3 linked regions of the Homo sapiens genome follow. The protein of the gene in region 3 interacts with the protein of the main gene of each other region in a biochemical or structural test. Each region holds a gene or a part of one and is shown on either strand. Other genes may lie near its edges. The genes, in order: RHOA, SRPK1 and ARHGAP26.

Region 1 (3,651 bases), on a different chromosome or scaffold from region 3:
TGGGGTTTAGCCATGTTGCATAGGCTGTTCTTGAGCTCCTAGGCCCAAGCTGTCTACTTGCCTTAGCCTCTCAAAAGTGCTGGAATTACAAGTATGAGTCACCACGCCCAGCCTCTTTTGGTTATTTTCAAAAGTCACTTTTTTTTATTTGAGACGGAGTCTTGCTCTGTCGCCCAGGAGTGCAGTGGCGCGATCTCAGCTCATGGCAAGCTCTGCCTCCCGGGTTCACACCATTCTCCTGCCTCAGCCTCCTGAATAGCTGGGACTACAGGTGCCCACCACTACACCCGGCTAATTTTTTTTGTATTTTTAGTAGAGACGGGGTTTCACTGTGTTAGCCAGGATGGTCTCGATCTCCTGACCTCATGATCCGCCCACCTTGGCCTCCCAAAGTGCTGGGATTACAGGCATGAGCCACCGCTCCCGGCCAAAAGTCACTCTTCAGCCATTTGAAATACCAGTAAACCCCATAGGGTAGAAGTTATGCTGAGAGTTGATGAACAAGTTAGAAAAAGAACATGTGGACCCTGGGTCAGCTGCTGCCCTAGAATGGGGACCCCTTCTGTAAGCTATGTCAGAATCATCTACCAGCAGTGACAGATGTCCTGTAAAGTGCCTGCCTTTGTGGGGCAGGAAGTGCCCCCCGTGAAACTACCTTGTGTTGTGGATCTTTTGCTCCTCCAGAGCCCTTACTCGGGCCCCACCTACAGAGATGCTCAGCACCACTCTTGGCTGGACTGAGAAAAAGCTGTTGGTTCTCTGTTTAAAGGAAAGGGATTATATTTCCTTTTTATGGTTTTGAAACTAGTGAGTTTCATTAAATGTCTAGCATTTTTCTGAAGCCACAAAGAAAGTGTCTCTGCAATTTCACTGAGGTTCTTGGAAAGTCTTCAAGATAGAATTGTATGTATCCCCAAATTCTCTACATTTTTCTTTCAGAAAACATCCCAGAAAAGTGGACCCCAGAAGTCAAGCATTTCTGTCCCAACGTGCCCATCATCCTGGTTGGGAATAAGAAGGATCTTCGGAATGATGAGCACACAAGGCGGGAGCTAGCCAAGATGAAGCAGGCATGATCTGGGGCAGGACTGTCTTGTAGTATTCTTGAACTAGGGCCCCAAGTTTGGAGGTTTGGGGAGCCCAGCAGGAACCTTCACAGGCCAGGTTGTTTTAGAGGCTCAGAAGCCCCTCTGTGGCCCTCTGACCCTCATTAATTGGGATCTTCACAGAAGATCCCTAAGATAGTTCACCAGTCCTGTGAGATGGAATGTTTTTTTATGAGGTAGTGCTATGCCCATAAGGACTGCTGGCCTGAGAATGAACCATTTCATTAGTAGCTAGTAATCAGTGGCTCTAGATGTAGGAACTTTCTTTTTTTTGATATGGAGTCTCATTCTGTCACCCAGGCTGGAGTGCAGTGGCGCAATCTCAGCTCACTGCAACCTCCGCCTCCGGGGTTCAAGCGATTCTTCTGCCTCAGACTCCCGAGTAGCTGGGACTACAGGCACCCTCCACCATGACCGGCTAATTTTTTTTTTTTTTAATAGATGGGGTTTCACCCTGTTGGCCAGGCTGGTCTTGAACTCCTTACCTCAAGTGATCTGCCCACTTTTGCCTCCCAAAGTGCAGGGATTACAGGTGTGAGCCACTGTGCCTGGCCTCTGTTAGACTCTTTATTTTTATTTTTTGAGACACAGTTTTGCTTTTGTCACCCAGGCTGGAATGCAGTGATGCTATCTCGGCTGCAACCTCAGCCTCCAAGGTTTAAGTGATTCTCCTGCCTCAGCCTCCCAAGTTGCTGGGATTACAGGCATGTGCCACCACGCCTGGCTAATTTTTGTATTTTTAGTAGAGACGGGTTTTCTCCATGTTGGTCAGGCTGGTCTCAAACTCCTGACCTTAGGTGATCTGCCCGCCTTGGCCTCCCAAAGTGCTGGGATTACAGGTGTGAGCCACCACGCCCGGGCCTGTTAGACTCTTGATTGCCTTCCCCAGCTATTACTTTGGTACATGTGAGGCCAAAGATAAATTAGTGGCAACTGAAAGATAAGGAAATCTTGAAGGCTGGGAGTCCAGATAGAAAGCCCTAATGCCTTCCCTCTCCTCCACTCCCAATGCCTTTTTAAAAGTGATGATGGATGTGGCATCTTGGCCTCTCAGAAACCAGCTGGCCTAATGGCAGGGCTTCCTCACTGGAGGAGAAGCATTGAGATCTTCAACCTAAGTTCTCTTACTCAGGTTTCTCTGTCTGAATGTCAAGGGTAGGCTTTATTTCCTTCAGGGCATTTAGTCCTGGATTGGTAGCTTGAGTAATTTTGCTCTTGATTGACTCCTTAACCTTCCAGGGCTCCTCTGACCTCTTCCCTCTACTTCCCAGTGAATACCATGTTTATTAGAGATTTTATGTTTGGTAGGGGGTAGTTACCATATGTCAGTTTAAAAATTTCATAAGTTTAGCAGTTTGTTGTTTTTTTTTTTTGTTTTGTTTTTTTTGAGAAGGAGCCTCACTGTGTCGCCAGGCTGGAGTGCTGTGGCACGATCTTGGCTCAACTGCAACCTCCGCCTCCCAGATTTAAGCGATTCCCCTGCCTCAGCCTCCTGAGTAGCTGGGGTTACAGGCGCCCACTACCACACCCAGGTGATTTTTTGTATTTTAGTAAAGAGGGGTTTCACCATGTTGGCCAGGATGGTCTTGATCTCCTAAACTCGTGATCCGCCCAGCTCAGCCTCCCAAAGTGCTGGGATTACAGGTGTGAGCCACCACACCCAGCCAAGTTTAACAGCTTTTGAAAGTCTTTTTTTTTTTTAGGCTGGGTACAGTGGCTCATGCCTGTATCCCAGCACTTTGGGAGGCCGAGGTGGGCAGATCACTTGGTCAGGAGTTCGAGACCAGCCTGGCCAAAATGGTGAAACCCCATCTCTACTAAAAAATTACTTGGGCGTGGTGGTGGGCACCTGTAGTCCCAGCTACTCGGGAGGCTGAGGCGGGAGAATCCCTTGAACCCAGGAGGTGGAGGTTGCAGTCAGCTGAGATCATGCCATTGCCCTCCAGCCTGGGCGACCGACGAGCAAAACTGTCTCAAAAAAAGAAAAAAAAATCTTTTAGATGAATTTGAATACTTTTTACTTACTATATGTATGCCACACTATTAGCTAAAAGGACTATTTTTTTTTCTTTGCTAGGAGCCGGTGAAACCTGAAGAAGGCAGAGATATGGCAAACAGGATTGGCGCTTTTGGGTACATGGAGTGTTCAGCAAAGACCAAAGATGGAGTGAGAGAGGTTTTTGAAATGGCTACGAGAGCTGCTCTGCAAGCTAGACGTGGGAAGAAAAAATCTGGGTGCCTTGTCTTGTGAAACCTTGCTGCAAGCACAGCCCTTATGCGGTTAATTTTGAAGTGCTGTTTATTAATCTTAGTGTATGATTACTGGCCTTTTTCATTTATCTATAATTTACCTAAGATTACAAATCAGAAGTCATCTTGCTACCAGTATTTAGAAGCCAACTATGATTATTAACGATGTCCAACCCGTCTGGCCCACCAGGGTCCTTTTGACACTGCTCTAACAGCCCTCCTCTGCACTCCCACCTGACACACCAGGCGCTAATTCAAGGAATTTCTTAACTTCTTGCTTCTTTCTAGAAAGAGA
Region 2 (3,651 bases), on a different chromosome or scaffold from region 3:
TTCGGGATTCAGCAGTGAAAGAAAAACATTCCTGTCCCGTTGGCTACTATATTATTATAGTGGGAGGAAAGACAGAATAAACAATAGACATAAATAAGTAAATTAAATAGTATATTAGGTGATAGGTGGAGAAAAAAGAGAAAGATAAGTGGGGGTTGAGAAATGGAGATAAGGTTACAGTTTTAAATAGGGTGATGGAGGCCACACTGAAAAGGTGACATTTGAACAAAGACTTGGAAGAGGACTGCTCTAGGCAAAGCAGTGGAAATGGGAGTGTTCTTGTATCTCCTGTGAAGCCACCAGAACTAGGTAATATTACTTGAAAAATCTTGCCAAATCTGGTAATCTATAAAATACCTTGTTGTAATTTTGAATTTTTTGCCCATTTTTAATATTAGATTGTTGATCTTTTTCTTGATCTTAAGAACTCTTTATTAAGAATGTATCCTAGCCAGGTCTGGTGACTCAAGCCTGTAATCCCAGCACTTTGGGAGGCTGAGGCGTGTGGATCACCCAAGGTCGGGAGTTCGAGACCAGCCTGATCAACATGGAGAAACCCCTTCTCTACTAAAAATACAAAAAATTAGCCGGGCGTCATGGTGCATGCCTGTAATCCCAGCTACTTGGGAGGCTGAGGCAGGAGAATTGCTTGAACCTGGGAGGTGGAGGTTGCAGTGAGCCGAGATCGTGCCATTGCACTCCAGCCTGGGCGACAAGAGCAAAACTCCATCTCAAAAAAAAAAAAAAAAAAAAAAAGAGAAAGTATCCTTTGTTGTGCGGCAGACTTTTATTTCTCAGCTTGTTATAGGTCCTTCAGATGTCACTTATAGTGTGCTTTTTACATAAATTGATTTTTAAAACCGTGGCAAATTTGTCTTTTCCTCTGCTTTTTCTTTTTTCTCTCTCTTTTATTTTTTTTTCTTTTTTTGAGATGGAATCTCGCTCTGTCACCCAGACTGGAGTACAGTGGCATGATCTTGGCTCACTGCAACTTCCGCCTCCTGGGTTCAAGCAATTCTCCTGCCTCAGGCTCCCGAGTAGCTGGGATTACAGGTGCGTGCCACCACACCTGGCTAATTTTTATATTTTTAGTAGAGACGGGGTTTCACCATGTTGTCCAGGCTGATCTCAAACTCCTGACTTCAGGTGATCACCTACCCTGGCCTCCCAAAGTGTTGGAATTACAGGCGTGAGCCACTGTGCCTGGCCTCCTTTGCTTTTTACTTTTTTTTGAGACGGGGTCTTGTTCTGTTGCCCAGGTGGGAGTGTAGTGGCGCGATCTCGGCTCACTGCAACCTCCACCTCCCGAGTTGGAGTGATTCAAGTGAATTCAAGTGATTCTCCTACCTCAAGGTCAACTGTTATATCTTTTTTAAAATTTGCATTTTTAATTGTGTGTGATTCCCTTAAATATAAATTTACTTGCAAAATTGAATTTCTAGAACTTCTCTTGTCAGAAAATATTTTGTTCTCTTCTTCCTCTGTAGTTTCATTGGTTAGTAAGTTTTATTTACATTAGTGTTTCTACTACAGTGCATCCCAGGCTTGACAAATTACCATTTTCCTTTAGATTACTTGAAACCAGCAACTTGTTGAAGTGCCAAAGTGAATAAGGCTGCGGGTGCTTAGGAATTCCCTTACTAAAAGTGAAAAAGGCTCGGTACAGTGGCTTATGCCTGTAATCCCAGCACTTTGGGAGGCCAAGGCCTTGAGCCCAGGAACTTGAGATTAGCCTGGGCAACATGGCAAGATCCTGTCTTCTAAAAACACAAAAGTTAGCTGGGTGTGGTGGCACGTGCCTGTAGTCCCAGCTACTCAGGAGACTGAGGTGAGAGGATCTCTTGAGCCCAGGAGGTAGAGGCTACAGTGAGCTGTGATTATGCCACTGCACTCCAGCCTAGGTGACAGAACAAGACCCCTGTCTCCAAAAGAAGGGAAGAAAGATGATCAACTAAAATCAATTTAGACCTTGTGGAATAACTGGCACTTTTTTGTGGGGTTTTTCCCACTTTAGGTAAGCTCTTTTGCTCATGCTCTCCAAATCCTCTCTATCACTGTTACTAGTTTGGGGATATTTTTAAATTGGCTAAAGTATTACAGGCATACTTTGGAGATACTATGGGTTCACGTTCAGTTCCAGACCACCTCAAAGCGAGTCACACAAAGTTTTTGTTTCCCAATGCATATAAAAGTTATGTTTGCACTGTACTGTAGTCTGTTAACTTTGCAGTAGCGTCATGTCTTTTAAAAATGTACAGACCTTAATTTAAAAATACGTTATTGCTAAAAAATGTTAAGGATCATCTGAGCCCTCAGTGAGTCATAATCTTTTTGCTGGTATAAGGTCTTGCCTCAATAATAATTTTTGTTTAAGGGAGATGGGGTCTGGTACTGTTGCCCAGGCTGGAGTGCAGTGGTGCTATCATAGCTCACTGCAGCATCGAACTCCTGGGTGCATGCGTTCCTCCTGCATCAGTCTCCCAAGTAGCTAGGATTACAGGCACATGCCACCATGCCCAGCTCATTTTTTATTTTTTATTTTTTTATTTTTTTTAAGGGATGGAATCTCATTATGTTGCCCTCAAGCTGGCCTTGAATTCTTGGCCTCAAGCAGTCCTCCTGCCTTAGCCTCCTGAGTAGTTGGGATTAGGGGTGTGAACCACTGCACCCAGCTATGGTCTTGCCTCAGTATTGATGGCTGCTGACTCATCTGGCGGCTGCTCAAGGTTGGAGTAGCTGTGGCAATTTCTTAAACAATGAAGTTTGCTGCATTTATTGACCCTCCCTTACCCAAAGATTTTTCTGTAGTATGCGATGATGTTTGATAGTATTTAACCCACAGAGGAACTTATTTCAAAATTGGAGTCAGTCCTTTCAAACTGTGCTACTGTTTTATAAATTAAGATTATGTTATATTCTAAGTCCCTTGTTGTCATTTCAACAATGTTCACAGCATCTTTACCAATAGTAGATTCCATCTCAAGAAACCGCTTTCTGCTGGGTGTGGTGGCATGCACCTGTGGTCCTAGCTACTTCGGAGGCCGAGATGGGAGGATTGCTTGGGCCCAGGAGTTCAAGGCCAGCCTGGGCAACATAGTGAGACCTTAGCTCTTAAAAACAAAAAAGAAAGAAACTTATTTTTTAAAAAAATTAATTAATAAACTAATCAGTTATTTTGAGACAGGGTCTCACCATGTTGCCCATGCTGGTCTTGAACTCCTGGGCTCAAGCCATCCTCCCACCTTGGCCTCCCAAAGTGCTGGGATTACAGGCGTGAGCCACCACGCCCGGCCAAGTAACCACTTTCTCATCATAAGAAGCAGCTCCTCATCTGTTCAAGTTTTATTATGAGATTGGAGCAATTTAGTCACATCTTCAGGATCCATGTCTAATTCTAGTCCTCTTGCTGTTTCTACCACATCTGTAGTTACTTCCTCCACAGAAGTCTTGAACATTTCAGTCATGCATGAGGGTTGGAATCAACTTCTTCCAAACTCCTGTTAATGTTGATATTTTTACCTCTCCCCATGACTGTTCTTAATGGCATATAGAATCGTGAATCCTTTCCAGAAGGTTTTCAATAGATTTTTCCCAGACCCATCAGAGGAATCACTATGGTAGCTATTGCCTTATCAAATGTATTTCTTAAAT
Region 3 (3,651 bases):
GTAAATTTATGTTTAAGTTTAATTTAAACTTGTGTTTATTTAAAAAAACCTACCATACTGTTTTCCATAACAGAAGCACCGTTTCACATTCCCACCAACAATGTATGAGGATTCTGATTTCTCCACATCCTCGCCAATACTTGTTGTTGTCTTTCTTTTTGATTGTAGCCACTCTAGTGGGTGTGAAGTGGTATCTCGTTGTGGTTTTAATTTGCATTATCCTGGTGACCAATGAGGATGAGCACCTTTTCATGTGTTTGTTGGCCATTGGTGCGTCATCTTTGCTGAAATGTCTATTCAGATCTTTTTTTTCCTTTACTTTGTCTCATAAAACTTTTGATGATTAAGTGAACAGCACTTAGTATATTTTCTCCATTTGCCCTCTTTTGGGGACTATTTGTTTCCATGTGCTTCAACCTTAGATGTATTTAACTGATCAGTTTCAGGATCTCAGGAATTAGGAAGTGGTTCTTATGAGGCTGTGGTTCAGATTTCTGCTCTTGTTAGGCCAGTGGGCATCGCTCTGGGCAGATGCCACACAGGCTGGACTTCCTAATTCTGGCCTGCATAAGCTAATGATCCAAGCCCTCTCAATGGACAAAATGAGAACCGGCCAAGGAAGAACTGTTATCACCATTGAGCTACTGGGGAAAGCAAGTTGTAAAGGGGACTTTGTTATCCTGTCAAGGTCATTGCATTTCTAAAAATTAGCCAGTGGAGGAATACTAACCTAGCAGTCAAAGTAGTTTTTCTAGATTTAAGTTTCTGAGTGAGCCTCGTTTTACCTTTTAAAATTATAACCCCTTCTGTTTCAAATTATATATTTTTTGCCATCAGAAGAAGAGTTTCGTTCAGGAAATACGGAGACCCTGCTCTGCCTTTACCATGTCCTCCAGAGCCCTAGACTAGAGTAATGGCTTTTTGGATGGAGGTAACCAATGTAGGAGTCATTAGCGGGGAGATTGAGTGGGATGTTTGGGGGCCAGTGGCGCGGCCAGTTGTGACTGTAGCAGAGTGAAGGCGAATGCACAAAGAGATAGGCCAGGGCAAGGTCATAGGGATCTTGAATTCTAGAAAGGACTTAGAGTTTTATTCTAAGTGTGATGGGCAGCCATGGAAGGCTGTGCCATGATCGTACTCATACTTTAAAAAGATTATGTAGGCAGCTGTGTAGAGACCAAGCGTAGTGGAGCAACAATGGAGGCAAGATGACCAGTAAGGAAGCTGTTGTAATAGTTGAGGTGAGAGATGATGGCACCGTGGGCTAGGGTGACAGCATCACAGATGGTGGTCAGAGGCTGGGTATTTTTGGAAGTAGAGCCCACAGGATTTGCTGCACAGCATATGGGCTATGAGAGAAAAGAAAGAAGTCTAGAATGATTCAGATATTTTTGGCCTGAGCAGTTATGTGAATGATGGTACTATTTGCTAAAATAGTTTGCTTGGGAAGGATTAGGTTTAGGGGTAAAATTAACAATATGAATGAATGACCTAATCTTATAATGCAAAGACAAAATATTATGACATGGATAGTTCCTGAATACATTCTCATGCAAGCATCAAAGAGTATAGACGTATACAGTGTAAAAGCACCCCCTTTTCCTAGCTAACAATCATTGTTAGCAGTTTGGTATGCATTTTTTCTTGTCCTTTTTCTGCGTGTTTTTTTCATAAATGGGATTATACTATAAGGATTATTTTGTGTTTTGCTTTTCGAGTTGATCATTTGTCTTGAAGACCTTCCATGTCAGTACATGCATGTAGTGCATTCTTTTTAATGACTGCAGAGAGCTTTATGTGGATATGCCATAGTTGGTATTTACTCAGTTTCCTGTTGAAGGATATTTGGATTGTCTCTGTTGTTCACTATTAGAAGGCGTGCTGCAGTGATTATTTGCACACCTGCTTTTGTGTGTGGATTCCAGCATTTCCCTGAGATGGATTCCTTCAAGTGGAATGGTTGCTGGCTCCAGTTTTTACAAGCCCTTTGACATCTGTTGTTTAGGTCCTTTGCATCCTTGTAGCCGGTTGATAATTTGGTGCTCCTTTGAGTATGTTAGATTGTTTCTGAAGCTTAATCTTTTGGTTAAATCAGAAGCATCCTTAACAGACCCTTCTGTTAGACACTGACACTGATTTTAAAACAACCAAGGGATAGAAAAAAAAAAAAAACTTAGTGTGTGTGTATGTGTGCCAGGGAAAGAGAGATGACAATTAATTGGATGTGTCCCTATTAGCCCTGGAACTGCTTGATATGCTTTCTGAGTGGCATGTTCTTATAGGTCAGATGGGAGATGGGATGGGGCTTTGCCCATATCTAAGAGTCTATTCTAACCTCCAGGCTCAGGGACTAGGAAGGAAATCATGTTTATTTAGGGTGAGAACAACAGCATTAGCAGCCAGAGGAATTTTTACAAATTATAGTGACTGGGGTTTACACATTTTTGTAGCACCTCAGAATGGAGAGAGAGGAAATGGTAAGGAAAACAGCTTGGCAGTGTGGGCCACGAGCTGTCATGGCATGTTTGTGTCTGGCTCATTTCACCTTGATTGGAAGGCACAGAATGCTGCCCTGGGTAAGCTGGAGACTGGGCAGTTTCCTGCTATATTTAGAAAGAGGAGATTCCTGGGGTTAGGGTGGTGTGTGTGTGTGTGTGTGTGTTTTCTTTGCCAGATAGACAAAGGTTTGAGGGGTTTGTGAATTCCACACCAAACTGTTAACTAGCTGGTTTCTCTGGGCCAAGCCAGTAGCTACTCTTTGACTCTTGCTGCTGCCACACAGCAAAAGCTCAAAAAACTCCTATTTTATATGGTTTGAAAAGATACCGCTGGTAAGTTTCAAAACTCATCTGATCTTGCTGTCACATCTGCTTTTAAGTTTACTGCAGGCTAATTTGAACACTTTGAAAATATGAACTGCCTCCTCCTCTGAGACTTCAGATAGATCTCCAAGCTGACTGAGTTGAACTTTGGCTGTTTCTGTGCCAAGGAGACTGTCAAACAGATAGGACCAAAGCCTTAGCAAATTCCTGACTGCGTATCTCGTTATCACACTTGTGGGTCAGGGGTAGACAATGAATATTAGTCGAACAAATAAAATAAGGCATTTTTACTTTAACTCATAGCTATGTTTCTTTTTAAAAGGGTTGCCTAAATAGGTAATACCTATAAGTTGTTCATAATTCAAAAGAGACAAAAGAGAATGTGAATATCCCTCCAATGCTTCCTGTCTCCTGATCCCCACTTCTTCCTCTGGAGGCATTTTATTGGTTTCTTTGGTATTTTTCAGATGTAATTTATGCATGTGCCAACAAATACACATACACATTGTGCCATATGTGCTGTTTTACCCTTTGCTTTTAATATATTAGATATTATTCTACATTGGTACATAGAGAGCTCACTCATTGTTAGATTGCATTGTATTCTATTGTATGAATTAAATATAGTGTATGTAACCATTCCCCTAATAATAAACATTTAGATTATTTCCAACCTTTCACCATTGCAAGTAATGTTGTTGTGAACATCCTGGCACCTCTGGCATGAGGCACATGAGTGACAAATTCCTAGAAATGAAACTGCTGGACCAAAGGGTATGTACATTTTTCATTTTAATAAGTATTTCATAACAGTGTTTCTGAAAAGTTC

The links.
Region 1: of the proteins of ARHGAP26 (region 3) and RHOA, one has a biochemical effect on the other in vitro, tested with the Homo sapiens proteins (one study listed by BioGRID).
Region 2: of the proteins of ARHGAP26 (region 3) and SRPK1, one has a biochemical effect on the other in vitro, tested with the Homo sapiens proteins (one large-scale study listed by BioGRID and IntAct).

What each region holds. Positions count from the first base shown.
Region 1 is NC_000003.12:49,359,915-49,363,565, reverse strand, and holds part of RHOA (transforming protein RhoA isoform 1 precursor), read left to right. Parts: intron 1-939; coding exon 940-1,070; intron 1,071-2,499; coding exon of another isoform or gene 2,500-2,638; intron 2,639-3,183; coding exon 3,184-3,357; 3' UTR 3,358-3,651. UniProt on the Homo sapiens protein: Small GTPase which cycles between an active GTP-bound and an inactive GDP-bound state.
Region 2 is NC_000006.12:35,911,075-35,914,725, reverse strand, and holds part of SRPK1 (SRSF protein kinase 1), read left to right. Parts: intron 1-3,651. UniProt on the Homo sapiens protein: Serine/arginine-rich protein-specific kinase which specifically phosphorylates its substrates at serine residues located in regions rich in arginine/serine dipeptides, known as RS domains and is involved in the phosphorylation of SR splicing factors and the regulation of splicing.
Region 3 is NC_000005.10:142,776,785-142,780,435, forward strand, and holds part of ARHGAP26 (rho GTPase-activating protein 26), read left to right. Parts: intron 1-3,651. UniProt on the Homo sapiens protein: GTPase-activating protein for RHOA and CDC42. Facilitates mitochondrial quality control by promoting Parkin-mediated recruitment of autophagosomes to damaged mitochondria.